Linked DNA regions of Homo sapiens. The protein of the gene in region 2 interacts with the protein of the main gene of each other region in a pairwise test. Each region holds a gene or a part of one and is shown on either strand. Other genes may lie near its edges.

Region 1 (3,500 bases), on a different chromosome or scaffold from region 2:
ATTAGCTGGGCATAGTGGGAGGGTCACTTGAGCCTGGCGGGTGGAGGTCGCAGTGAGCTGTTATCACGCCACTGCACTCCAGCCTGGGTTACAGAGCAAGATTCTGTCTCAAAAGAAGGAAAAGAGGAGAGGGGAGGAGAGAGGAGAGAGGAGAGAGGAGACAGGGGAGAGGGGAGAGGAGGTGAGAGAAGAAAAGGAGGGAAAGAAGGAAGGAGGGAGGGAAGGAAGGGAAGGAGTAGGGCCGGGAGAGGTGGCTCACGCCTGTAATTCCAGCACTTTGGGAGGCCAAGGCAGGAAGATCACTTGAGGTCAGGAGTTTGAGACCAGCCTGGCCAACACAGCGAAACCCCGTCTTTGCCTGTAATCCCAGCTATTCAGAAGGCTGAGGTACAAGAATCACCTGAATCTGGGAGGCAGCGGCTGCAGTGAGCTGAGATGGCACCACTGCACTCCAGCGTAGGCGACAGAATGAGACTGTCTCCAAAAAAACAAAAAGAAAGAAATGAGTAGAATTCAGCATTGCCTATACAACTACTTCAAGCATCCCATATTCAAAACCCATTCCCTGCCCCAACACCAAATCCAAAACTTCCTCCTGCTCCTCAACATTGTCTATTTGAGTTAATCATGACCTCAAATCACCAACTTACTTTTTACCATAAATATTTAATTTAAACATCTACTAAATGCCAGATACAAGATAGTAAAATATAAATTAGGTGTGAAGGTAGCCTAGCTTGATAAAGTACTGTATTTCACCTGAAGGGGTCAAGGAAGGCTTCTAGAAAAGATGACATACTGACTGAATTTTGAAAGGTGAGGTGGTGCACAGAGGGTGAGGGTTGGCAACACACAGAATGACAGGCACATTCATTCCATCCTTGGTGCCAATGCCCTAGTGCAGAACCTCATTATGTACTATAGTAATTCAGGCAGTAATAATCTCCCAACTATTCTTCCTTCTTCCTGTCTCAGCAAGCCTCTAATCTAGCGTCCACTACCAAAATGATTATTAGAAAGGGAAGAAAAAAGGAAAGGAGGGGGTAAACCTAAATCTAACCATTTAAAATCTTTCACTGACTCTAGAGTAAGGATGAGTCCAAATTCCCCACACACCATTATCTGTCCCCTTTTTACATTAGACCTCATCTCCAGCCTGTCCTCACTGCAGCCACCTGAAACATATGTTTCCTGGCTCTTCTATGCCCCTGCACCTTTACTCATGCTACTCTTTCACGGTTCAGCTCAAGGTTACATGCTCTTTCAAGTATTCCCCATTACTCCCAGGTTGAGGTGGGGTCCCTCCCTCTAGGCTCTTACCTGCACCCCCATGACACCCTGGCTATTGCTCATGGTACAATATAAACTCACAATTTTGTCTTGTCTCTTTCTTCCCCAGAGTATGTACTTTTTTTTTTTTTTTTTTTTGAAACAGAGCCTCTCATTGTCACCCGGGCTGGAGTGCAGCGGCACAATATTGGCTCACTGCAACCTCCACCTCCTGAGTTCAAGCGTTTCTCCTGCCTCAGCCTCCTGAGTAGCTGGGATTACAGGCACCCGCCACCACATCTAGCTAATTTTTTGTCTTTTTTAGTAGAGACAGGGTTCCACCATGTTGGCCTGGCCTGACCTCGTGATTCGCCAGCCTCGGCCTCCCAAAGTGCTGAGATTACAGGCATGAGCCGCCACGCCTGGCCAACTATGTACTTCTTAAAAAAGGAGGGTTATAGCTTGTTTTATCTCTGTCCCCTACAAGCAGCACAATGCCTGGCAGACAGCAGACCAACACACGTTAAGCAACCTGAGCATTCTATGCTAAACCCATCAGATGAAGATCCATTAGGACGTTAATGGGGATGTCTGAAGTGATCAACCACCTAACAAGAAGAGGCATCAACTGAACCTAGGATAGGCTTCACCCACTACAAGTTCCAGTTATTTACTTGACCAAGCACCTGTACCCAGACTAGGAAACTTTTTAACTACACTTTTTAAGCTATTATTAAATGTGGTTACACAGCATTATAAAGGTAATAGCCATCAAAATCACAAATGTAATTGCTCAAACTTTTACCCAGCAACTGCACTTCTAGAAATCTATTCAACAGAAATATTCTCATAGGTACTCAAAGATGTATACACAATGCTTTCACTGAAGAACTGGAATACAAAAAAAAAACCCTAATTAAAAAGATCAAGCCATATAACAAGTATGATCCCATTAAACATATATATATACACATATATATACACACACATATATACACACACACACACACACACACACACACACACACACACACACGGATAGGCTAGGCCCCATGGCTCATGCCTGTAATACCAGCTACTCTAGAAGTCAAGGTGGGAGGACTGCTTGAGCCCAGGAATTCAAGACCAGCCTAGACAACATAGCAAGATACCATCTCAAGAAAACTTTTTTTTCTGAAGGATGTCTATATATCAAACTATTAATGGTGTTAATCCTACTTCTATGCTAGCACTGAATTCAAATTTCCTACCACTCTTTAGCTGACAAAAGACAGAGGAAAAAAAAATCATACTTTTTATCATATCTCTTTCCAACAAGCCCTAATGGTTGGTGTAAGTGCTCCTGAACAATCCTAAAATCAGCGACTTCTGGAAGATTTTAAGAATTCTAAAGGAGGCCGGGCGCGGTGGCTCATGCCTGTAATACCAGCACTTTGGGAGGCCGAGACGGGTGGATCACAAGGTCAGGAGATCGAGACCATCCTGGCTAACACAGTGAAACCCCGTCTCTACTAAAATGCAAAAAAAAAAAAAAATTAGCTGAGCATGATGGCGGGCACCTGTAGTTCCAGCTACTCGGGAGGCTGAGGCAGGAGAATGGCATGAACCCAGGAGGCAGAGCTTGCAGTGAGCTGAGATCCCGCCACTGCACCTCCAGCCTGGGGCACAGAGCGAGACTGTGTCTCAAAAAAAAAAAAAAAGAATTCTAAAGGAAACAGGTTATTCTGGGAGGGTCCATGGCCAAATTCCTGAGTTCCCACTGAAACCTACCTTATACCTTTAGAGAAAAGTCAATTAATGACTTTTAAAAGTACATTTTTCCAATGCCAATAAAATGTTAAGTCAATACTAATATCCATTTTTCATTCTCTTGGGAGGCAAGGGGTAAGGAGTAAATCACTAAGTGCAAAAAAATACAGTCCAATTTTTTGGAGACATGCTTAAGGTCTTCAAAGAGCTTCAGTTCTCCATGGTAACATATGGAGAGTTTAATGAAACTTTCCTGACAGTTCAACTTATCAGACTGGTATTTCTTTTTTCTTTTTTTTGAGACGAAGTCTCTCTCTGTCGCCCAGGCTGGAGTGCAGTGGTGCGATCTCGGCTCACTACAACCTCCGCCTCCAGGTTCAAGCAATTCTCCTGCCTCAGCCTCTTGAGTAGCTGGGACTACAGGCATGCGCCACCATGTCCAGCTAATTTTTGCTGTTTTTTTTTTTAGTAGAGACAGGGTT
Region 2 (3,500 bases):
CCTCCCGGGTTCAAGTGATTCTCCTGCCTCAGCCTCCCAAGTAGCTGGGATTACAGGCGCCTGCCACCACGCTCGGCTAATTTTTGTATTTTTAGTACAGACAGGGTTTCACCATGTTGGCCACGCTGGTCTCAAACTCCTGACCTCAGGTGATCTGCCCGCCCCGGCCTCCCAAAGTACTGGGATAACAGGCGTGAGCCACTGCACCCAGCCCCCATCAAAAGTAAATTTTAAAAATGTCAACATTATCAAAAAAACCATTCCATTTCACATATGAAAAAGAACAGCAAAAACAACAAACCTAAAGTTATAAGAGGGAGGAAATAATAATGATAGGAGCTATAAATAAATAAGAAAACATGTCATGAAATTTAAATAAATGTGCCAGGAGCTTGTTATTTGAAACAGCTAATTAAAACAGGCAAAACTGTCAAATACAAGGTTTTAAAATGTAGAAAAATGGGAGAAACTTAAGATGTGAGCTACAGCAGCACATTTTATTTTTTTATTTTTGAGAGACAGGGTTTCTCTTGTCACCCAGGTTGGGTTGCAGCGGCATGCTGTGCCTCACTGCAGCCTCGACTTCCCAGGCTCCAGAGATCCTCTCACCTCAGCCTCCCAAGAAGGTGGGAACTACAGACACATCCCACCATGCTCGGCTAATTTTGTTTTGTTTTGTTTTTGGTAGAAACGGGGTCCCACTATGTTGCCCAGGGTGGTCTTGAACTTCTGGGCTCAAGCGATCCTCCCGCCTCGGCCTCCCAAAGTGCTGGAATTACAGGCGTGAGCCACCGTGAGCGGCAGCAGATCTTTTATTGAACTTAATGTGCATTAAGTGCCTGCGTGTGTCAAACAATGTTTTAGATTTTTAAAAATAATCATAAAACATTCCATGCATGACTGATTGTAAAAACGACTATGCCCAGGGCAGTTTTGTTTAAAAATATTCCGCCGGGCGCGGTGGCTCACGCCTGTAATCCCAGCACTTTGGGAGGCCGAGGAGGACAGATCACGAGGTCAGGAGATGGAGACCATCCTGGCTAACACGATGAAACCCCGTCTCTACTAAAAATACAAAAAATTAGCCAGGCGTAGTAGCGGGCGCCTGTAGTCCCAGCTACTCGGGAGGCTGAAGCAGGAGAATGGCGTGAACCCGGGAGGCGGAGCTGGCAGTGAGCTGGGACTGTGCCACTGCACTCCAGCCTGGATGACAGAGCGAGACTCCGTCAAAAAAAAAAAAAAAAAAACCACCATATATATATATGTATTTTACAATGGACAAGTGAAAAAGTTGACTAAAAGTAGAGATGACCTTAAAATAACTATGAAAATCATCCCCTCCCCTGTTTAACACTGAGACCCAAGCGTTATGGATAAATTCTATTTTTACGTAGAAAAATGATGCTATGTTAGAGAAGCTGATTCATACACAGAACACATTCAAAACCACTTCACAAAATCATTCCCAAGCTATCATCCGATCTCCACTCCCAATGGAGACAGAGATAAAATTCTTGGCTCATGACAAGGACTCAGTAATGTGATAAAAGAATAATATACCAATTAGGGTTTATCACAGGGAGCGAAGGATTGTTCAATTTGAGACAATCTAAAAATAGCATCCACCCCATCAATAGCTTAGGGGAAAAAAATCATATGATCATTTAAAAATACCAAAAGGCATTTGAAAAAATTCACCACCACCCTCCTAAGACAAAATGGAAAAAAGGGAATGCAAAAATATTTCTCCAACATGCTGACAAGGATTCTAAAATAAGAGCTGGTATTAATATGATAATCAGCAGAGAAGTACTAGAGATGCACTCGAAAATCAGGAGCCAAACAAGCATGCCTGGCCGTGCCCCACCACGACGTTTTAGAACATGAGAGAAATGCCACAGGATAGACAGGGAAGCAAGAGGGGCACGTGTTAGAATGCAGAGACAACGGCACTCTTAATAACTGATGCTGCGGCTTGACGAAAGCAAACAGCACATACAAGAAAAGCATTCAAAACAACAACCGACAAGCTGCATTTCTACAAACAAAAACCACTTAGGAAATACGCAAGCAAAAGAAATGCCAATCACATCACACCTGTAATCCCAGCACTTTGGGAGGCCGAGGTGGGCGGATCACCTCAAGTCAGGACTTTGAGACCAGCCTGGCCAACATGGTGAAACCCCGTCTCTACTAAAACTACAAAAATTACCCAGGAGTGGTGGTGGGCGCCTGTAGTCCCAGCTACTCGGGAGGCTGAGGCAGGAGAATCACTCAAACCCAGGAGGCAGAGGTTGCAGTGAGGCGACATTGTATCACTGCACTCCAGCCTGGACAAGAGTGAGACTCTGTCTCAAAAAAAAAGAAAAAGAAAAAGAAAAAGAAAACAAAAAAAAAGGAAATGCCAATCACGGATGCAACAACCTATCATCACCACGACTGCCACAAAAAAACCACCAAAGACCACCCCTGACATCATACGCACATGACTTCCAAGAGCAAGATCTCTAAAACCGGTCTAACTTGTATCAGTAGACACTGATGGAGAACTCTCTTATGTTCCTGAAAAGTCTGACTGAAGACCAAGACGCAACCATGGATGTTACGAATGCCTCACAGCATGGCTAGGACGTGGGCCCCTTCTAAGGTGAGAAAACCGAGGCTCAAGGAGGTGGTTTCCATTTCCCAGGGTCATCTGTGAGCACATGGTGACCTCACACAGCCTGTTTGGAGCAGAGCTGGCATTGCCACCCTTGTCTGGGTGACTCGGAAGCCTGGGATCTTCCCATGCTACCTTCTAATCCACCGCCTATACCTTGATACTTGGGGATATCAAACGATATTCTACAAAGATTAATACTTGAAGGGAGCAGGTCTTACATGGTATTAAAATATACTCTAAAACAGCAAGACTCAAAACAGCATGATACTGGGACAGAAATGGAAATGTGGAATCGTGGAGGCCCAGAATGAGGCCCAACTATTGTTAGATATATGGCAAAACAGAGACTGTCTAATACATGGCGGTCACTAACTGAGAAGCATGGGAAAATTGCACAGAATGGGTTTTAATATCTGGCTGAGCGTACAGTAGGAGCGTATTGATACAAACCAGCAGGTGCCTTTGCTCCGAGCTTGGTCCTGCATGCTCAATAGCTCAGAGGCCTTACTTGGCTCAATCTCTGAAGGACTTCGTAATTCATAAGGTGGATGTCTCCATTTCACAGATGGAAAAACTGAGGCTCAGAAAGGGAAATAACCAGCTCAGATCCCTCAGCCAGGTCTGGCTGGCTTTATCAGCTAAGTTCCCCGGCCTCAACCGGCAGACAAGGCTGGGCTTTTCTGGACTCCCAAAGCTCAGGGTGCTGGTGGCTGCTGCCTCGAGCACCTGTGGGTCCCTCACCCTTGCATGCTCCCAGTTCCCTCACCGTGGGCCTGGACCAGTGTGCCCTATGGCTGCTCTCTGCTCCTGGATGACTGACTCTCCAGTTGCCTCCTGG
Region 3 (3,515 bases), on a different chromosome or scaffold from region 2:
GCAGTCCGCGGTCTCTGGACAATCAACTCAAGGTACGCCCACTGCAAGGCCTCCCTCCCACCGCGGCCCCTGCCTGGCCACCTGGCCTCTCTGCACCAGGGTGACAAGGGGTCCTCGTCTGCCCCCCAATGCTCCAGGGCCAGTCCTAAGGAGCTGAGGGTCTGAGGACGCAGGGAGGGTGGAGGTGTCCTGAGGCTGATGGACAGTGACCGCCACTGGCCCCCAACATGACCACACGTGGGTGCTGAACTCGGGGCGCCGTGCCCACCGGCATGGTCCTCCCGAGCTCCGACAGCATTACCTCACCCGGCCCCATCTGTTGCCCCGGTCCAGCCCTGATGGCGCGCGCCTGGTCTGTCTGATTCCCCTAGCCGCCACCCCACGTTTCTGTACCGGGTCTCTGCAGTGTTAAACGGACGTGTAAATAGTGGTAAATAGTGAAAGCCTGTCCTTCCCTAAATGTAAAGCCATCTGTCCGGCGTAAGGACGACACCGTCAGCTGTCCGACTCGCACACATTTAATAAACTGAGCTCTTGCATTGCCTGCCGCCATCACCTCTTCCTCAAAATGGGCTGTGGGCGGGTAGGTTCATCGCTGTCTATGTGCTGCCACAGAATTGCTGAGACCCCCCAGGTTAGATCCCTGGAAGCAGAGCCAGAAAGCAGAAACTGGGGGCACAGGGTTTGTGGGCACCCCACCCAGATGGGCCGGGGAGGCACTGGCTGAGGCCAGGAGTCTCCCCCTGGTCCCAAGGGAGGGCAGGCTCCAGGGGGTGCACAGCACCCCAGACAGGGGGTCCAACCTGGGCATTGGTACCTGGGCCAGTTATTATGGCAGGCCCCAGTGTGGGGCAGGAGGCACCCATGAGCCACTAGGAGCTGTGGCTGGTGCAACAGCTGGGATGGGGCAGCCACAGCAGCCACTACCGGGGAGAGTCAATGGTGGACAGGGGCTGCGGGAGCTGGGACGGCCCCACGTCAAAGCCACTTCAGGGAGCACAGCCCTGGCCCAGCTGGGGGGACAAGGAAAGCTATGACTGCAAGCAGCACAGAAGTGCAGGGTGGGAAGGGATGGCAGGAGCCGGCCCCCTCCCCACCTTCCACCCTGGGACACTGCCGGGACCTCCCTCGGCCAGGTGAGCAGCTTCAGAAGCATGACCAGTGAGAAGTCCCTAGGGCCCAGGCCGGGCTAGCCAAGTCCCAGTTTCTGGATGAGGCGCCTCCCAGGCTGTGTGTGGCAGGCCCCCTTTCTTCAGGGAATAAGAAACATCTTCCACATTCAAGAAACAAAGCTGGCTGTGGGTCTGGAGAGAGGGTGAGGCAGCCCCAGGTCTCTGGGTCAGGCGGACGGTCCCTGCATGCAGTGCCCGGCAGGACTGAGCAGGGTTCCCGGGGTCGCCGGTACCCATCCCTCCCCAGCTTCCGGGGCCCCGGGACGGAGCCGCTCACAGAGGCACCATTCAGACGGCCAGACACACACGAAAGCTTTATGTGCAGGGCCCAGCCTCTGGGCCGCCTTGCCCAGGTTTCCACTCAAGTTGCTATTTAGGATGAAAAGCCTTTGGCAAGACCCTCCGCCGCACTAACGCCCCCTCCCCCAGGGCCAGAACCCGCAGGGAAGCAGGCCCAGGACCTGCTGCAGCTGGCAGGGTGGCTATGAGACTCAGGACACCCTGGGCTCCTGGCCAGTGACTCACAGCGGTCCTCCAGCAAGGGCAGTGGCTGGGAGACACCCGTGCCGTGGAGCTAGGCCCAGCCTGGCTGGGTCTCAGGGCTGCTTCTCTTGGGTGACCCCAGCGGCCCAGGGTCGTTGTGAAGATCAACGTGGCTTGTGGGAGGAGCCCGGGGCCCAGAAGGAAGTGGGGTCAGGGGCTCAGGCTGGCCCTCGGGCTGCTCTGACATTGGGTGGGCACTCGCTGGATGGAATCACAGTTAACACCTCGATCCCAACACCTGGACTCAGAAGTGGACAGGCGAGTGCCTGCCCCGGGAGAGGAAGGAGGTGGCACCTGCTCCCAGGGGCCCCACTGCAGAGCACGGCCACTGTGAGCTGACGACAGAATCACAGTACAGCAATAATGTCCCTATCCTCTTCCAGAACCCCAGTGGGGCCCTCAGGTCACGCAGGACGGAGCCAGCTGGGTGGGTCCCACCAACTCGGCATGAATGAGACGACGGATGAACCGCAGCCCCAGCATCAGGAGGGGCGCCTGTGTCAACACCCACGTGGGCTGGGACCCCGTGAATGCCAGTCTGGGGCCGACGGACCCCCAGGGAAAGCCTGGGTGCAGGCCACCTTGTGCGCTGCCCAAGCCTGCAGGCCCCGAGAGGTCAGCCTGAGGAGGCAGCCTCGGCTGCCGGTAATGCTGCCTGCTTCATCTGGGCCACCTCCCGCTCCAGGTCCTCGCCGGCTCGCTGCAGGAGCTCACACCTCTGCCTCAGCACGTTGCCCGCCTGCTGCAGCCGCTGGTTGGCAGCCACGTAGGCCCGGCTTTGCTGGTAGAGCTGCTCTCCCGGGGCCTCCGCATCCTCCATCATCCTGAAGGGAACTGGGGGGTCTGAGACAGGACACAGCAGCATCACTGCCTGCTGACCACCCCATCCTCCTGGGCACCCCTCACTACTGCCCCCAAAGGGCAGGGTTCCCTGCAGTCCCCGAGTGAGCTTGCCAGCCGGGGTCTTCTTAACATGACGGATGCAGCCAGGTGTGGTGGCTCACGCCTGTAATCCAGCACTTTGGGAGGCCGAGGCGGGAGGAACACTTGAGCCCAAGAGTTAGAGACCAGCCTGGACAACATAGTGACACCCCCATCTCTACCAAAAAATACAAATACAAAAATTAGCTGGGCGTGGTAGCACGCATCTGTGGTCCCTACTTCTCTGGAGGCAGAGGCAGGAGGATCGCTTGAGACTGGGAGGCCGAGGCTGCAATAAGCTATGATCGTGCCACGGTACTCCAGCCTGGGTGACAGAATGAGACCCTGTCTCAAAAATAAATAAAAACAAAAATCAAGTAATGGAGGCTTCCTCGTCCATCAGCTGGGAGAGGCACAGTGGCTGGGTGGCAGGAGGGGCTTCCAGCTCTAGGCTACCCGCCTTAGCAAAGCGTGTGACCAGGGGGATCGGGTCACAGAAAGAGCTCAAGCCTCGCCAGCAGTGGCCCTCCTGGGGGCGGGGCTTCCATTCCTGCAAAAGCCGTGGCACCCACCGGGATGGACTCCACTGAGCTGGCCTGGCTCTCATTCCTGCTGTCTCTGGAAGCCAGAGACGCAACAAGCCCGCCACCGAAAACCTCTCCAGGGGCCGTGCAACCTCCTGGAGCACACACTTAGGGAGGCAGGGGTGGCGAAGGTGAGAGGTGGGCATTGACGTCCTGGTGACTCCCACATTCAGCAGAAACTACGTATGGCTCCCTGCTCCCCCACGTATGCAAGCCCAGTGCAGCAGGGCTGAAGCAGCACCGACTTCAGGGTCACTCAGAGAAGCGTCAGGGGCCCCTCGGCTCTGGCCTGCCC
Region 4 (3,500 bases), on a different chromosome or scaffold from region 2:
CTGCCCAGGTCATCAGCAGTCCAGGCATGACACAGTTTCTCCAACAAGGGAGAAATGAGAGGGGTTGGGTAGGAAGTAAAGCCCCATCAAGGAGGCGCTGGTTCCTGGGGAGGGGAGGAGGGAGACTCCTCCCCCATTTCCCTGCACGTCTGAGGGCAGGGGGTTAAGGAAGGGCTCCCTTAAATGCCCAGGCAGTCTACACAGGCACAGGCAGAAAGGGGCTCCAGACGTCCATTGGGCTAAATCGCCAAGGTCCAGAGAGGGGAAGGGATCAGCCACGGGTCCACAGCAAGCAGGGGCCGAGCTGAGTCTAGAACCTGGTCCACATGGAGTCCACTTCACAGCCTGTGGCCTCTTGGTGGGCCCAGGTGGGTCTGGAAGGGGACACACTTGGGTCAGGGACAGGGAAGGTGCTGCAAAGACGCAATGTGGTTGGGCTTTGTCTGGCTGTGGTGGTGGCCAGAGGGAAGGGAGGGAGAGCTGAGAGTAAGGGTCCCTGTCCTTTGAATCTCTGCCATCAGGGGCTCTGCTCCCAAGCTCCAGGCCCTCCCGGATGTAACACAGAGTGTCTATGATCTGTCTTCTCCACTGGGCTGCACCCTGGTGTCCAGCATTCAGTGGTGATCAGAAATTGCACAGAATGAATGAACACACGCCTGCGTTCCAACAGGACCCACCTTCTTGTCCCACGCTTGGCAGCTGCCGACCCCACCAGCCCCCGCACTTGAGAGGTTTTGGGTTTGGGTTCTTTGCATGAATGATGTGATATGTCAACAGTCACCCCTCCGAAAACCACGTTTCCTTTTGTTTTGTAGGAAGCACCTCGTGCCCTGGCACATCCTGTTGACTTCCCATGGGCTACCTGTGGAGTGGGACCCGTGTTCGGGAAGGCGGCTGGCATTGGCGGGCAGAGGTGGCAACCATGACAACTGGGCTGCCTTGGGCGGCGAGCGTACCACACACCAGCGCTGCCCTGAGCTCGTCAGACATGCTTCCTCACTGACTCCTCCAGCGTCCCTGTTGTCATCATGCCCCCTTTACAGATGAGGAAACTGAGGTCCTGAGAGGCCCATGGCTGGCCTGCAGCCACACAGCTAGTGAGCGAGGGGTGTGTCCTCTGAAACCCCGGCTTGGTGCCCTTGGCTGCATGGCAGCCCTGGAGAAGGGACCAAATCCCCTCTGCAGCCATGTGGGTTTACGCCAGGCTCAGGCTCCTGCAAGGCAGGGGCTGCGGTGGCACATCTGTGTGACCAGGGACCAGACCAGGCTGTGCTCAGCATGCTCACCTGTGGGTTCCTTCACTCGGGGAGAAGGGCACATGAGGTGGGGAGGGGGCAATGGGTGATCAGGACAAACATTCCTCAGGGCTGGGTAAGTGGCAGCAAGCTGACCATTACTTAAACATTTAAACAATGTTTTCGAGGGATATTTTTTGACCTATAATAGTTAGTGGTAAGGACACCTCCTGCCTCCAGCCTTGACTCCCTCACCCACTGTGGCCGGGGGCCACCAGAGCAGGCACTCACAACTCACACCCAGCCATGGCCCCCCGACTTGCAGCCACTTCAGGGGCTCCCCTTTTGTTCTGAGTGTGTATCTGGCTCTGCTGCCATGTCCAGCCTTCTGTCTCCCCAACCTCCCATAATCCACGGTGCTGCGGTGCCTGGAAGAAGGCTCACTTCGGCCTTCCAGATTCTGGGATGGTGCCCTGCCCTCTGTGAGGCCTGCCCAGGAAGCGGGTTTCCCTGGGGCTCCTGGCCCACCAGTCAATCTGCATCACCCTGGAAGGTCACCATCTGCTTCCTACCTGCTTCCCCACCAGCCTGGAAGTCCCCAAGAGCAGGGCCAAGGCCTGAGAACACAGGGCAGCGTGTGGCAGAAAAAACTGCTAATCTGAAATTCTGCAGCTGTGGCTTCGGCGGGCAGCCCTGCCACCAGCAGTCCCACTTTGCTGGAAACTGCCGAGCAAATCCAGTATGTTTCATGGGGGGCCGGGTGCGGTGGCTCCCGCCTGTAATCCCAGCACTTTGGGAGGCTGAGGTGGATGGATCACCTGAGGTCAGGAGGTTGAGACCAGGCTGGTCAACATGGTGAAACGCTGTCTCTACTAAAAATATGAAAATTAGCTGGGTGTGGTGGTGGGTGCCTGTAATCCCAGGAGACTGAGACAGGAGAACTGCTTGAACCGAGAAGGTGGGGATTGCAGTGAGCAGAGATTGTGCCACTGCACTCCAGCCTGGGCAACAAGAGCAAAACTCTGTCTCAAAAAAAAACAAAAGAAATAAAAAATAAAAATCAGGTGTGGTGGCATGCGCCTGTGGTCCCAGCTACTCGGGAGACTGAGGCGGGAGGATTGCTTGAGCCCAGGAGTTTGAGGCTGCAGTGAGCTATGATCATGCCACTGCACTACAGTCCAGGCAACAGAGTTTGCCTCTAAAATAAAAAAAAAACCCACCACCACCACCACCACCACCACTACCAACAAAACCAAAGAAAAAGGCTGAGAGGAGAGATGGAAAGAGGATGAGAAAGAGAAAAACAGGGAGACAGACATAGAGACAGAGGCAGAGCCAGACAGGCTGCAGTCTGGATGTGGTCCCCACAATGAACTCCTCCCCTAGCCAAGCCTGGTCCATAGGCCACTGCGAGGCAGGGTCAGGGCTGCCCTGTGGGGAAGGACTTCTATGCCGGGTACTGCCATGTACAAGCAGGAGGGGCGTGCAGCAAGGAGGAAAGGCTGTAGGCAGCGACCCCAAGGGCTGGGCAGAGCGATGAGGCGGGCCGCTCCTGCCTGGCCAGGAGAAAACTCACTAGCCGCTGCCCCTAGAAAGCTATCGTCTGTTAACTTAGCAGGGGCTGCGGATTCCTGGCACCCAAGGGCTGTGATGGACATGATGTGGCCCAGCCGCGGCCCCAGAACCTCCCCGAGGAGGCAAAGCTCCCGCTCGGCCCAGGGTGCTCACCTTCAAGAGGCCGATCTCCTTGACACAGTCCTGCCTCGCCTTGGCGTCCATCATCTCAAAGATCTTGGGCGGGAGGAAAAAGAGAAATAGAGTGGTTACAATCTGTGTCCAGTGACCCAAAGGAGGCCACGGGGTCTGCTTTCCAGTCCCGGCTCTCCCACCTCCTCACCAAGGGACTCTGTGACCCCCCCCTGCACTCCCAGCCCCTGTAGGGCTTGCTCACTGTGGGTCCCCCCAGCACTGTCCCACCACAAAACCCATCGTGGCACTAAAGAACCAAGACAGAGAGCCCAGGTGAGCCCCTCCCCAGAAGATGGAGAGGGCGGGCCAGGCACAGTGGCTCACACCTGTAATCCCAGCGAGGCTGAGGTGGGTGGATCACTTGAGGTCAGGAGTTCGAGACCAGCCTGGCCAACATGGTGAAACCCCGTCTCTACTAAAAATATAAAAATTAGCTGGGTGTGGTGGTGCACGCCTGTAGTCCCAGCTACTCAAGAGACCTAGGCAGGAGAATCGCTTGAACCCGGGAGGCAGAGG
Region 5 (3,500 bases), on a different chromosome or scaffold from region 2:
AACGACTCACACTTGTAATCCCAGCACTTTGGGAGGGCAAGGTGGGTGGATTGCTTGAGCCCAGAAGTTCAAGACCAGCCTGGGCAACATGGCAAAACTCCATTTCTACTAAAAATAAAAAAATTAAAAAAAATTAGCTGGGTGTGGTGGCTTGTGCCTATAGTCCCAGCTACTCAGGAGCCTGGGGTGGGAGGAACACCTCAGCTTGGGAGGTTGAGGCTACCTACAGTGAGCTGTGATCACACCACTGCACTCCAGCCTGGGCGACAGAGTGAGACCCTGCCTTAAAAAAAAAAAAAAATTCTTTGCTGGCTAATGATGAAAAGGGGAAAGAGTTCTGGAAAGATGTCAAAAGAACATGTTTGTAAACAAACACGGATGAAATCTTAGGTAAGAAGAAAAAACCTCTAAGAAACATGCCTTGATAAGTCATAGGCAGGATGCAGTGAATCATCTTGCTACTATACACAGGTGTGGGATATACAAAGGTCATATTCATAGGCGCATCAGCAATGGCACTTTCCAAACTTTCTCAAGTGACAAAAAAGCCTTCACAGTAAGCTGACTAGCAGCTATTGAATTCAAAAACTTAGCAAAACTTTTTATGCTTTATGTCTTTAACCATATGTAAAATACAAAATCTCACCCTATTTCTCCATTTGAAATTTCTTCAGACACTTTCTAAGCATACCATCTTTCCAGGCCTTTTAGCATTGTGTAGTCAAAGATGAATAAGACACACTCTCTACCCTGATATCATAATTTAAGAGAGAAAAAAGACACACTGAGAAATAACTAGATACAGGATGAGGATTAAATAATAAAAGCATGAACAAAATGTTGATAAAACAGAAATGGAAGCACGTGTGGAAATCACAAAAGGGGTGGCATGAACTTTAATGGATGAATGGAAGTCTATCAGGTCAAAAAAGAAACAAGAAAAGACATCAAGGCAAAGTGAATAATATAAACAAAGACATGAAGGCATAAAATCTATGTTAGGTTTGAGAAACAAGGACAAGTTCAATGTGGCTGAAGCATGAGTACTGGGGTGAGGTGGTGAGGGCAGGAAATGAGACTTTGGGAGAATCATTTAATTAACATTATTATTCCTATGAGAAAATATGCAGAACAGAAACAAAAAGAAAAATCACCTTATGTCTTTGATAGTTGCTCGTTTCAGTGGGTCAACCTGCAGCATATGCATCAGGAGAGTGGCGACAGAACGATTGAGATATTCTGGGATATAAAAGACACCCCCTCGGATCTTCTTAAATAACGTAGGTACATGCTCATCATCAAATGGGAGGGTGCCACAAAGAAGAGCATACAAGATAACACCACAGCTCCAGATATCAACTTCAGGACCTGCATACAATCTAAGAAAAAAGATGACAACACAAACCTGAAATGCAAGAATCACTTTTTCTCTATGTACCCTACTTCTATATATAGGTAGTCTACATTCAGTACATATTCATTTCCAAGGTCTTTAATGAAGTCCATGGCTGCTCCCCAATATTCAGTGTTTGTTCCCCAAAGAGAGTAATGGGGCTAGCCAACTACTATTCAAGCCTGCCAAGTGAATAGGGTATTTTTATTTGTCACAAATTCATTTAACTGAAACATACGAATTAAAACATATAATACTTTCTGTGGTTGATTTTTGAGGGAAACAAAGTAGATGACCACAAACTTGAAAAAATACTATGGTGTATAGGTTAAATCTTTTTCCCAAAGAACTATTACAAGAAAGAAAACATATATATAATGTATACATATAATAGAATTTCTACCCCTGGCACACCTTTAAAGAATATTAAGGCTGGTCACGGTAGCTCACACCTGTAATCCTAGTACTTTGGGAGGCTGAGGCGGGCGGATTGCTTGAGGCTACGAGTTTGAGGCCAGCCTGGGCAACATGGTGAAACGCTGTTTCTACTAAAAATACAAAAAATAGCCAGGGATGGTGGTGCACATCTTAGTCCCAGCTACTCAGAAGGCTGAGGTGGGAGGATCATCTGAGCCCAGGAGGTGGTACAGTGAGCTGAGATTGTGCCACTGCACTCTAGCCTAGGTGACAGAGCGAGACTCTATCTCAAAACAAAAAATATATATATATATATATATAATATATCATATATATAGAGAGAGAGATATTTAAAACATTAAAGTACTTAATTAGTACTGTGTAGACAGTATTTATCCTGTATCACATTATCCTGAGTACTTACTATTTCTATTCTCATCACTTCCTAACTCATATGACTAAAATCATCTTTGATCCAGATAACCTATGCTTATAGTATTATTCCTTTTTTCTCTTACGTTTCTACAGCATTACAATTCCCATGATAGCATATTACCATACTCAAACCTGGGTCTGAGGTAACAAAGTAAATCTTTACTATTCTAATGAAAAGAATATAATCTGTTTATATAAAAAATGGTGATTGTTTACATCATTTGCTGTATTGTTCAAACTCCTTGCAATGGACTGAATGCTTATGTCCTCTCAAAATTCATGTGTTGAAATCCTAACCCCCAAGGAGATAGTATTAGGAGGTGGGGACTTAAGGGGGGTGATTAGGTCACTAGTGCAGAGTTCTCATGAATGGGATTAGTGCCCTTATAAGAGCGACCCCAGAGAGATCCCTTGTCCCTTTCACCATGTGAAGTTACAGTGAGCATACAGTAGTCTATTAGGAAGCAGACCCTCACCAGATACCAAATCTTGATCTTGGACTTCCCAGACTTCAGAACTGTGAGAAATACATTTCTGTTGTTTATAAGCTATCACCTTTATTGTATCTTTCTTATAGCAGCCCAAATGGACTAAGATAATTCTTTATCTGCTATTTGCAATAATACTTTAACCATATTTTCTCTTATAGGATTCTGTTAACTTTTAAAATCACACGTTGATCACTGTAGAAAGACTTGAGTTTACCACTGCAATCTGTATAAACATTTTTATAATGTACCAATGAATAAGTTATGAGTAACTACACAATCTCTACTTGTGTAATTTCATGAAACAATATTTTCCCCCAAAATCTCATTTTTCCAAACACAAAATATAAAACAATGCTCTATATACTTTGGAAAATATGCAAGGTATTATTAAAGAACTATATCTAATAAATAAATGACACTAGCTTAAATTTAGCAAATTCTTACTCTCTTATCTGCACTTTTGTAAAATGAAAGATATGTTAAATCAGGATCTACTTCAGTTATTTTTCTAATGGGGAAAACTTCGTAAGTATATTTATAATGACATCTAAATGAAATGTTTAACATTTTTTGATATAACCATTATCCCTTTAACAGTGGAAAAATAAATGAATAATCCATTTCTACCATGTTAAAATCTTACCTTCCATAGAGAATATATTGTAATTAAATGTTATCAAAATGAACACAAGATTACAAAAAGCTTATGCTTCACTGATTATTACCTGCCTGAGATGACTTCAGGTGCTGCATAATTTGGAGAT
Region 6 (3,500 bases), on a different chromosome or scaffold from region 2:
TTTTTAGTAGAGATGGGGTTTCATCATGTTGGCCAGGCTGGTCTTGAACTCCTGACCTCAGGTGATCTGCCCCACTCGACCTCTCAAAGTGCTGGGATTTCAGGTGTGAGCCACTGCATCCAGCCTGGGATGTATCTTAAACCAAGGATACAAGAAACCAGAGGAAGGAACTAATTAAAATCAGAGGACGGCAGGGCATGGTGGCTCATGCCTGTAATCCCAGCACTTTGGGAAGCTGAGGCGGGTGGATCACCTGAAGTCAGAAATTCAAGACTAGCCTGGCCAACATGGTGAAACCATGTCTTTACAAAAATGCAAAAATTACCCGAGCATGATGGCAGGTGCTTGTAATCCCAGCTACTTGGGAGGCTGAGGTGGAAGAATTGCTTGAACCCAAGAGGCGGAGGTTGCAGTTAGCTGAGATCGCGCCACTGCACTCCAGCCTGGGCAACAGAGCAAGACTCCATCTCAAAACAACAACAACAACAACAACAAAAAAATCAGAGGGCACTGGATTTTAGATGTTGTTACCATAAATGGAAGGCAAATCGCCTGAAACTGGGGATGTTCCTGAGAGTTTGGCTGATCACAACAGTGATAAAAGGGGAACTGTTGCATTTTACATTTCCATAGGCTACATGGCTGGATATGGCTTAGTTGGGGAGGAAGGAACATGAACCAACCAGAGAAAAGCCTAGAATCCTGGGGAAAAGTGACATTTAGAAAGGTGTACTCCACAGCCCTTACCTCCACTTCATCCCCTTCTGTGATCTCCTTATTATAGTCAGCTGGAGGTGGTAGCCGGACATCCCCAAAAGGAATTTGTCTCTCACTCTGCCAGCTATAATAGAAACAATAATATGAAAAAGCTACTCTGACTGATATGGTTGCCCATTTCTTTACAAAAGGGTTATTGCCTCAGCTGGGCGAGTTCCACCTATCTGGATAATTAGAGGCTAAACCCCAGGCCCTGCTCCATAGTAGTGTCTTCCATCTCTTTCTAGACTCTAAATACTGGGTCAAATGCCCCCACCCTCACCAAATTCTCAGCCCTTTCCTCTCCTGGGATCCATATGAGTTCCCACCCAAACCCTCAGCTCTCCCAACCTATTACATGCCTCATAGGACTCAGCTGCCCCCTCTTCTCCACTCTCCTTCTAGGACCTAGTATGCTGGATTCTCTATTCCCAAGGTCTTACTTGTTTTCAAAGAAGATGGTGACAGAGTCTTCATGGACATCCTTCACAAAGCCCTAGAATGGATTTTAGAAAAAAGCAAAAAAAATAAAATGACCTTTTACTTCCACCTTAGCCATCAAGGGAATAAGACACCACAAAACCTTAAACTTGAGTTTTAGATAGGGACACAAGTGGTGTAATGAGACAGCCTGAAAGGCTGCACTGGGGAAAGAATATGGGCAGTCAAACAGAGAAAGGAAATGATATTGTCATGGAGAGGTGTATGTACCACCTGCATCAGAACAGCCTGGAAACCAATGATCTACTCAGGCTCCCACAGGGGCCTCCCTATCTGTCTGCCTCCTGTTGTGCTAAGCAGCCTGCCAGAGTTCAATTAAAATACCAACAACATTCAGCAAGGCTAAGAATATCCCATGAGACAGTGTGAGGCTGTCCTGGAACACCTAGAGGACATGAGGATCTGTCGAGAGAGAAGGGCCTACCTCCGCAATACAGCAAGAGATCTGAGCAGACTCGCTGCCCTGATGCATGGGTCCTAAGACAATAATCGGAACACTAGACAAGTTCAAAATTGTGATGAACACAATTTACAGAAGGAAAAATTAAGACTTAATTTAAAAACATCGGTTTTTTAATACTAGAATTGAATCTAGAATGACACTGATAATTTATAAAGGATAATAAAATTTATGGAAGACTCCAATCTTGATATTTTGACAAGAGCAAGAGGGATGACTGAACAGCTGATCCACCTCCTGTGGTCTGTGTCCTCACTAAGGAGGCCAAAGCCATGCATTCACCCCTATGCTCCCAATTTTTCTACCTTCTCCCTATTTTTCACATACAATTAGGGATTTCTAATTTTGAAAAAGGTCTAGCTTATGAATTTATTATTTTATCAACTGTGCTTTTGGTTTCATATCTAAGAAATCTTTGCCCAGGCCAGGCACAGTGGCTCACGCCTATAATCCCAGCACTTTGGGAGGACGAGGCAGGCAGATCACCTGAGGTCAGGAGTTCGAGACCAGCCTGCCAACATGGTGAAACCCCGTCTCTACTAAAAATACAAAAATTAGCCAGGTGTGGTGGTGCATGTCTGTAATCCCAGCTATTTGGGAGGCTGAGGAAAGAGAATCACTTGAACCTGAGAGTCAGAGGTTGCAGTGAGCCAAGATCATGCCATTGCACTCCAGCCTGGGCAACAAGAGCAAAACTCCATCTCAAAAAAAAAAAAAAGAAAAAGAAAAAGAAATCTTTGCCTAATCCAAGGCCACAAAGGTTTTCTCTTATGTCTTCTTCTTAAACTTTTAGTTTTTTGTTTTACATTTACATCTATAATCCTTTATTTTTAGACAGAGTCTCACTCTGTCACCCAGGCTGGAGTGTAATGGCGCAATCTTGGCCCACTGCAACCTCCACCCCCCGGGTTCAAGCAATTCTCCTGCCTCAGCCTCACGAGTAGCTGAGATTACAGGCAACCGCCACCACACCAGGCTAATTTTTTATATTTTTAGTAGAGACGGGGTTTCACCATCTTGGCCAGGTTGGTCTCGAACTCCTGACCTCAGGTGATCCATCTGCCTCAGCCTCCCAAAGCTGGAATTAAAGATGTGAGCCACTGTGCCCAGCCTATGATCCATTTTGAATTAAATTTTATATATAAGGTGAGGTATTGATCAATGTTTTTTAAATTTTTAAATTCTTATTTATTTTTTTGAGACAGAGTTTCGCTCTTGTTGCCCACGCTGGAGTGCAATGGTGCAACCTTGGCTCACCGCAACCTCCGCCTCCCAGGTTCAAGCAATTCTGCCTCAGCCTCCCAAGTAGCTGGGATTACAGGCATGGGCCACGACCCTGGCTAATTCTGTATTTTTAAGAGAGACAGGGTTTCTCCATGTTCGTCAGACTGGTCTCAAACTCCCGACCTCTGGTGATCCACCCGCCTCAGCCTCCCAAAGTGCTGGGATTACAGGTATGAACCATCGCACCAGGCCACTTTTTTTTATTTTTAATATATTTTTAAATTAAAATTTTTTTTTAATAGAGACAGGGTTTCGCTATGTTGCCCAGGCTGGTCTTGAACTCCTGGACTCAAGCAATGCACCCGCCTTAGCCTCCAAGAATGTTGGAATTACAGGTGTGACCACTGTGCCCAGCCCATTTTTTACCTAAAGATATCTTGTTCCAGCACTGTCTGTTGAAGACTATCCTTTCTGGCCAGGGGCGGTAGCACACGCCTGTAATCCCAACACTGGGAGGCCGAGGCTGGCAGATCAGCTGAGGCCATGAGTTCGAGACTAG
Region 7 (3,982 bases), on a different chromosome or scaffold from region 2:
TCTGGGTTGTGGACCGCCCTCCACGGCAGTGGCCTGAGCGCTTGTCATTATTCACTTTATTCATGCCTGGTTTCTGTCTGGAAGGGACCACAAGGACATGGCGTGCAGGGGAGCCAATCCTGCCAGGGACTGAGGAAACAGATCCTGGAGAAAACCAGACACTTTGCTGGCACTTCAGGGGGACCCCAGTTGGTTGGCTCAACGCCCCCTCTTCCCCATAGCCAATTACTAACCAATGTTCTCTCTGGAAACCAGTCATAATTCCTAACCTGGTCAAAGCAGGGTCATCTCACACAGCCCAGCCACCCAGCAGGCAGCTAAAGAGTGCCTGATGAAATGCAAGTCTGATCGTGTCTGCGTCCCCAAGCCCTTCCGTGCCCCCTGCTGCTCTATGGACAAGCCCCCAGCAGCCTCTGTAATGCACAGCACCCGCCCTTGTCTCCTGTGCTGGCTTCCGCAGCCTGGCCACACTGGTCCTCTCGCCCACCCACCTGACCTGACTCTGGCAGGGCCTTTGCAGGAGCCATTCCTCCACCCGAGCCCCTCCTATTAAAGCCTGTTCCTAGACGGTTCAGCCCCAGCCACCAGAAGCCCCCCAGCCCCGGCCCAGCAGCTGGCCTGTGGAGCGGGGAGAGCGCAGTCTGGGCTCACGGGCTGGGGGCCACGGAGGCCCAGATGGGGACTCTGGCTCCGACTGTCCTGACCCAGAGGCTCTAGGGCGGTCCTGTCTGTCTCACCCCGGGGGCGGGGAGGACGCAGACAGACCCCAGCGCCACTGCTCGGCCGCGGATGGTGCCTTAGACCCAGGTCCTGTGGGCTCTGGCCCGAGACCCCTGCCTCTGGGGAGGCCGGTGACCGGGACAGTCCACCTCGCAGGCGCGCCGGCGCGGAGCCCGGACCTCGGCCCGCAATGACTCAGCAAGGGCCGGTGGGATTCTCCGTGGTCCTGCGATATCCAGACGGCGGAGTCTCGCCTTTAATGTCGCGCGGGGAGCAGGCAGGTGCGAGCCTGGGCTGAGCAAAACCCTCCTTGGAGTCTCCGCAGAGGAGCGGGGCGCGCCTCCTGAATAAGCAGGCGGCGGGGCGCGGGGCAGGGCGGGGCAGGCGGCCAGGCCCTCTCGGGACTGTCGTAAAAGGGGGCGGAGCGCGCCGCGCGTGGGACAATCGTAAAAGGGGCGGGACGCGCCGCGCTCGGGATGTCGTGAAGCTGGGGGAGCTCGTCGCCGCCGCCGGCGGCTAGCGGGCGTCCGCGCCATGGAGCGCTACGCGGCCGCCTTGGAGGAGGTGGCGGACGGTGCCCGGCAGCAGGAGCGACACTACCAGTTGCTGTCGGCGCTACAGAGCCTGGTGAAGGAGTTGCCCAGGTACGCAGGCGGGGCGGGCGGAGGCCTGCGGAGGCGGCTTCGTTTCCCGCCGGGGCTCACCGCGCCCCCCTACCCGCAGCTCTTTCCAGCAGCGCCTGTCCTACACCACGCTCAGCGACCTGGCCCTGGCGCTTCTCGACGGCACCGTGTTCGAAATCGTGCAGGGGCTACTGGAGATCCAGCACCTCACCGAAAAGAGCCTGTACAACCAGCGCCTGCGCCTACAGAACGAGCACCGAGGTGCGCGGGGGCAGCGGGATGAGGTGCCGCCTCCTCCGGGTCGGCGCCTCCGGGCAGCTCTTGGTATCTGTGCAGATCAGCTCCTTCCTTGGAAGTGTTCGGAAGAGGTCTCTAAGATTGACAAAATCAACGGGCGCAGAGACTGAGACAGCGCCTTTTTGGTGATCAGTGGGTCCAACCAGTTTTGTTTTCAGTTGCGCAGCACCCACCTTCTTAGCAGAAACTCCCTGTTCGGGCTTCCCTGTGCCCCACGCGCTTCCAGACAGGATGGCCCTAGGCCTCGGTGCCTGATTGGCCTGCAGGCAGACTCTGGTGGTGGCGCTGACTGCAGCAGCATTGCCCCTCAGTAGTTGGAAGTCTGTTGACAGTTGTGCAGCAAGCGTCTTTCAGGGTCAGTTCCCTCTCAGGCCTCGCAGGGCCTCATTCCAGTTGCACATCAAATTCCTAAGCACTGTCTCCTGTGGCGCCCTCCCAAACCCGAAGAGCTTCCCACTTGAGCCAGGCCTGCTTGGTGGGCTTGGGAGCCCTTTCCTGCAAATTATATAGGGCAGGTCCCCCTGCACCATCAGTTTCCACCTTTGTTATTTTTCCCAAACTTCTTATTTTAGAAGTTAAAACATTTAGAAAAGCTGAAAAGATAGTATAGTGCATACGCTTGTGCTCTTCACTAAAGTTCAATAGTTAACGTTTTGCTCTAGTTCTTGACATCCCAAAATATATACATGTGACAGCATAGCATTCACCAAGAGTCTTCAGCATTCCTGGAGACCAGGATTTTCAACCCAGCCATGCTGACATTTGTGGCTGGGTAAGTCTTTTTGGTGAGATGCTGTCTTGCGCATTGCAGGATGGCAGGGGTACCCTCCCTAGTCCTGAAAACCAAGAATGCCTCCAGACAACCTGGGTGGTGGGGTCAACCTTGGCCTTGGATTGGGAGCAAGTGCTCTAGAACAAAACTGGTCTCCTACACAGCTGCAGAAGGTAGCCCCCTGAGAAATTAACTGTTCCGGGTGTCTCCTGACTTTCAGTGCACGGCCACATCATGGTACCTAACTTGTGGCAAATTGTTGCTTTATAAGTAAGGATCCAGTCCAAGTTCATGTACTACAATTGGTTACTTTGGTCTCTTTGCTTCTGAAACAGTCCCCAACATTTATTGTGGCATTGACTTTTTTGTAGAGTCCAGGGCATTCTAATTTTATAGAATGCCCTGCTCTTGATCTATCAGACGAAATGCTTCCTCTTGCATTTAACCTGCTTCTCCACTCTCTGGGTTTCCTGTACACTGGACTGCTGGTAGAAGCCTGATTAGAAGCAGGTTTAATGTGGCAAAAATTTCTCCTAGCAGTGCAAGGCCCCCTTCCCCAGAAGGCAGGCAGTGTCCATCTGCTCCAGGATTGGTGTGTTTTTATCAAGAATGGATGTTGGATTTTGGCAGTTCCCTTTTCGGCAGCTCTTGAGATGATCACGTGGTGAATCATTTTCTATTACTACAGTGAATTACAGTCACTTGAATTCCATCCTACTGGGTCGTGCTGTAGTATCCTTTTTATGTATGCTGGATTTGATTTGCTAAAATCTTAAGAATTTTTTGGTCTATGTTCATGATAAACTGTGGTCTATAGTTTTCATGTAATATCTGGTTTGGGTATCAGGGTTTTTGCCAGCCTTATAGGATGAGTTTCGAAGTGTTCTCTCCTCTTCAGTTTTCCAGAAGAGTTTGTGTAGAATTGGCATTACTTCTTCCCCTAAATGTCTGGGCGATTGTCTTTTTAAAATTTTTTATTGAGCTGTAAGATGTATGTAGTTTACTAATCCCAAGCGCATGGCTCATTATTCCTTAATGCCCAGACTGTGCCATGTGTGGCCAGTTGGGGGCGCTCCAGGCACCTTTAGATGCCGCCCCATCATTCTGTGAGCACTTTCTTGCTTTCTGGTTCAGGTATGTGTTCAGGCTCATCTTTTCTTGTTTTCTCCGTGTCTCAGTCCTGGAATCGGCCATTTTTCCACAGAGCTATAGTTCCTTATAGCAGGATGGGGAGTTTTAGTAACTGCCTGGGCCCAATGCTGTTTGTGCTTCAGAAGGTTTGGGCCAGGCCCTGGTTCCACCAGCAGCAGGCATGCCTGCATTGACTTTCTGCTTCTCCTGCTGATTTGGCAGGGGCGACTGGCTGCTCCTGCCTCCTTTGTGTTCCCTGGTCATGTCTAAGGCCAGGCCCCTTCTGCCCAGGCAGCCAGCGTGGCTCTCTTCTTGCCTTTTGGTTGTCTATCTAGTGGAATCTGGTAGTGGACCTGGCACTTGTAGCAATGTTTGATCAGTAGAGTGAAGGAGATGACATTTCCCTGCTTCCCTGTGTTATGGAGCTGTCTTGAGGGGG

The links.
Region 1: the proteins of NECAB2 (region 2) and KANSL1 interact in binary tests that used the Homo sapiens proteins (3 or more experiments, as listed by UniProt).
Region 3: the proteins of NECAB2 (region 2) and C19orf25 interact in binary tests that used the Homo sapiens proteins (3 or more experiments, as listed by UniProt).
Region 4: the proteins of NECAB2 (region 2) and NEK6 interact in binary tests that used the Homo sapiens proteins (3 or more experiments, as listed by UniProt).
Region 5: the proteins of NECAB2 (region 2) and PRKAA2 interact in binary tests that used the Homo sapiens proteins (3 or more experiments, as listed by UniProt).
Region 6: the proteins of NECAB2 (region 2) and FXR2 interact in a two-hybrid assay, tested with the Homo sapiens proteins (2 studies listed by BioGRID and IntAct).
Region 7: the proteins of NECAB2 (region 2) and DGCR6L interact in binary tests that used the Homo sapiens proteins (3 or more experiments, as listed by UniProt).

Annotation. Positions count from the first base shown.
Region 1 is NC_000017.11:46,183,430-46,186,929, forward strand, and holds part of KANSL1 (KAT8 regulatory NSL complex subunit 1), read right to left. Parts: intron 1-3,500. UniProt on the Homo sapiens protein: Non-catalytic component of the NSL histone acetyltransferase complex, a multiprotein complex that mediates histone H4 acetylation at 'Lys-5'- and 'Lys-8' (H4K5ac and H4K8ac) at transcription start sites and promotes transcription initiation.
Region 2 is NC_000016.10:83,981,744-83,985,243, reverse strand, and holds part of NECAB2 (N-terminal EF-hand calcium-binding protein 2), read right to left. Parts: intron 1-3,500. UniProt on the Homo sapiens protein: May act as a signaling scaffold protein that senses intracellular calcium.
Region 3 is NC_000019.10:1,472,701-1,476,215, forward strand, and holds the end of C19orf25 (UPF0449 protein C19orf25), read right to left. Parts: intron 2,559-3,515; coding exon 2,332-2,558; 3' UTR 501-2,331; downstream 1-500.
Region 4 is NC_000009.12:124,313,449-124,316,948, reverse strand, and holds part of NEK6 (serine/threonine-protein kinase Nek6), read right to left. Parts: intron 3,027-3,500; coding exon 2,964-3,026; intron 1-2,963. UniProt on the Homo sapiens protein: Protein kinase which plays an important role in mitotic cell cycle progression. Required for chromosome segregation at metaphase-anaphase transition, robust mitotic spindle formation and cytokinesis.
Region 5 is NC_000001.11:56,693,814-56,697,313, reverse strand, and holds part of PRKAA2 (5'-AMP-activated protein kinase catalytic subunit alpha-2), read right to left. Parts: coding exon 3,462-3,500; intron 1,380-3,461; coding exon 1,155-1,379; intron 1-1,154. UniProt on the Homo sapiens protein: Catalytic subunit of AMP-activated protein kinase (AMPK), an energy sensor protein kinase that plays a key role in regulating cellular energy metabolism.
Region 6 is NC_000017.11:7,604,898-7,608,397, forward strand, and holds part of FXR2 (RNA-binding protein FXR2), read right to left. Parts: intron 1,253-3,500; coding exon 1,200-1,252; intron 842-1,199; coding exon 748-841; intron 1-747. UniProt on the Homo sapiens protein: mRNA-binding protein that acts as a regulator of mRNAs translation and/or stability, and which is required for adult hippocampal neurogenesis. Specifically binds to AU-rich elements (AREs) in the 3'-UTR of target mRNAs.
Region 7 is NC_000022.11:20,317,261-20,321,242, reverse strand, and holds the start of DGCR6L (protein DGCR6L), read left to right. Parts: upstream 1-1,182; 5' UTR 1,183-1,254; coding exon 1,255-1,364; intron 1,365-1,443; coding exon 1,444-1,604; intron 1,605-3,982. UniProt on the Homo sapiens protein: May play a role in neural crest cell migration into the third and fourth pharyngeal pouches.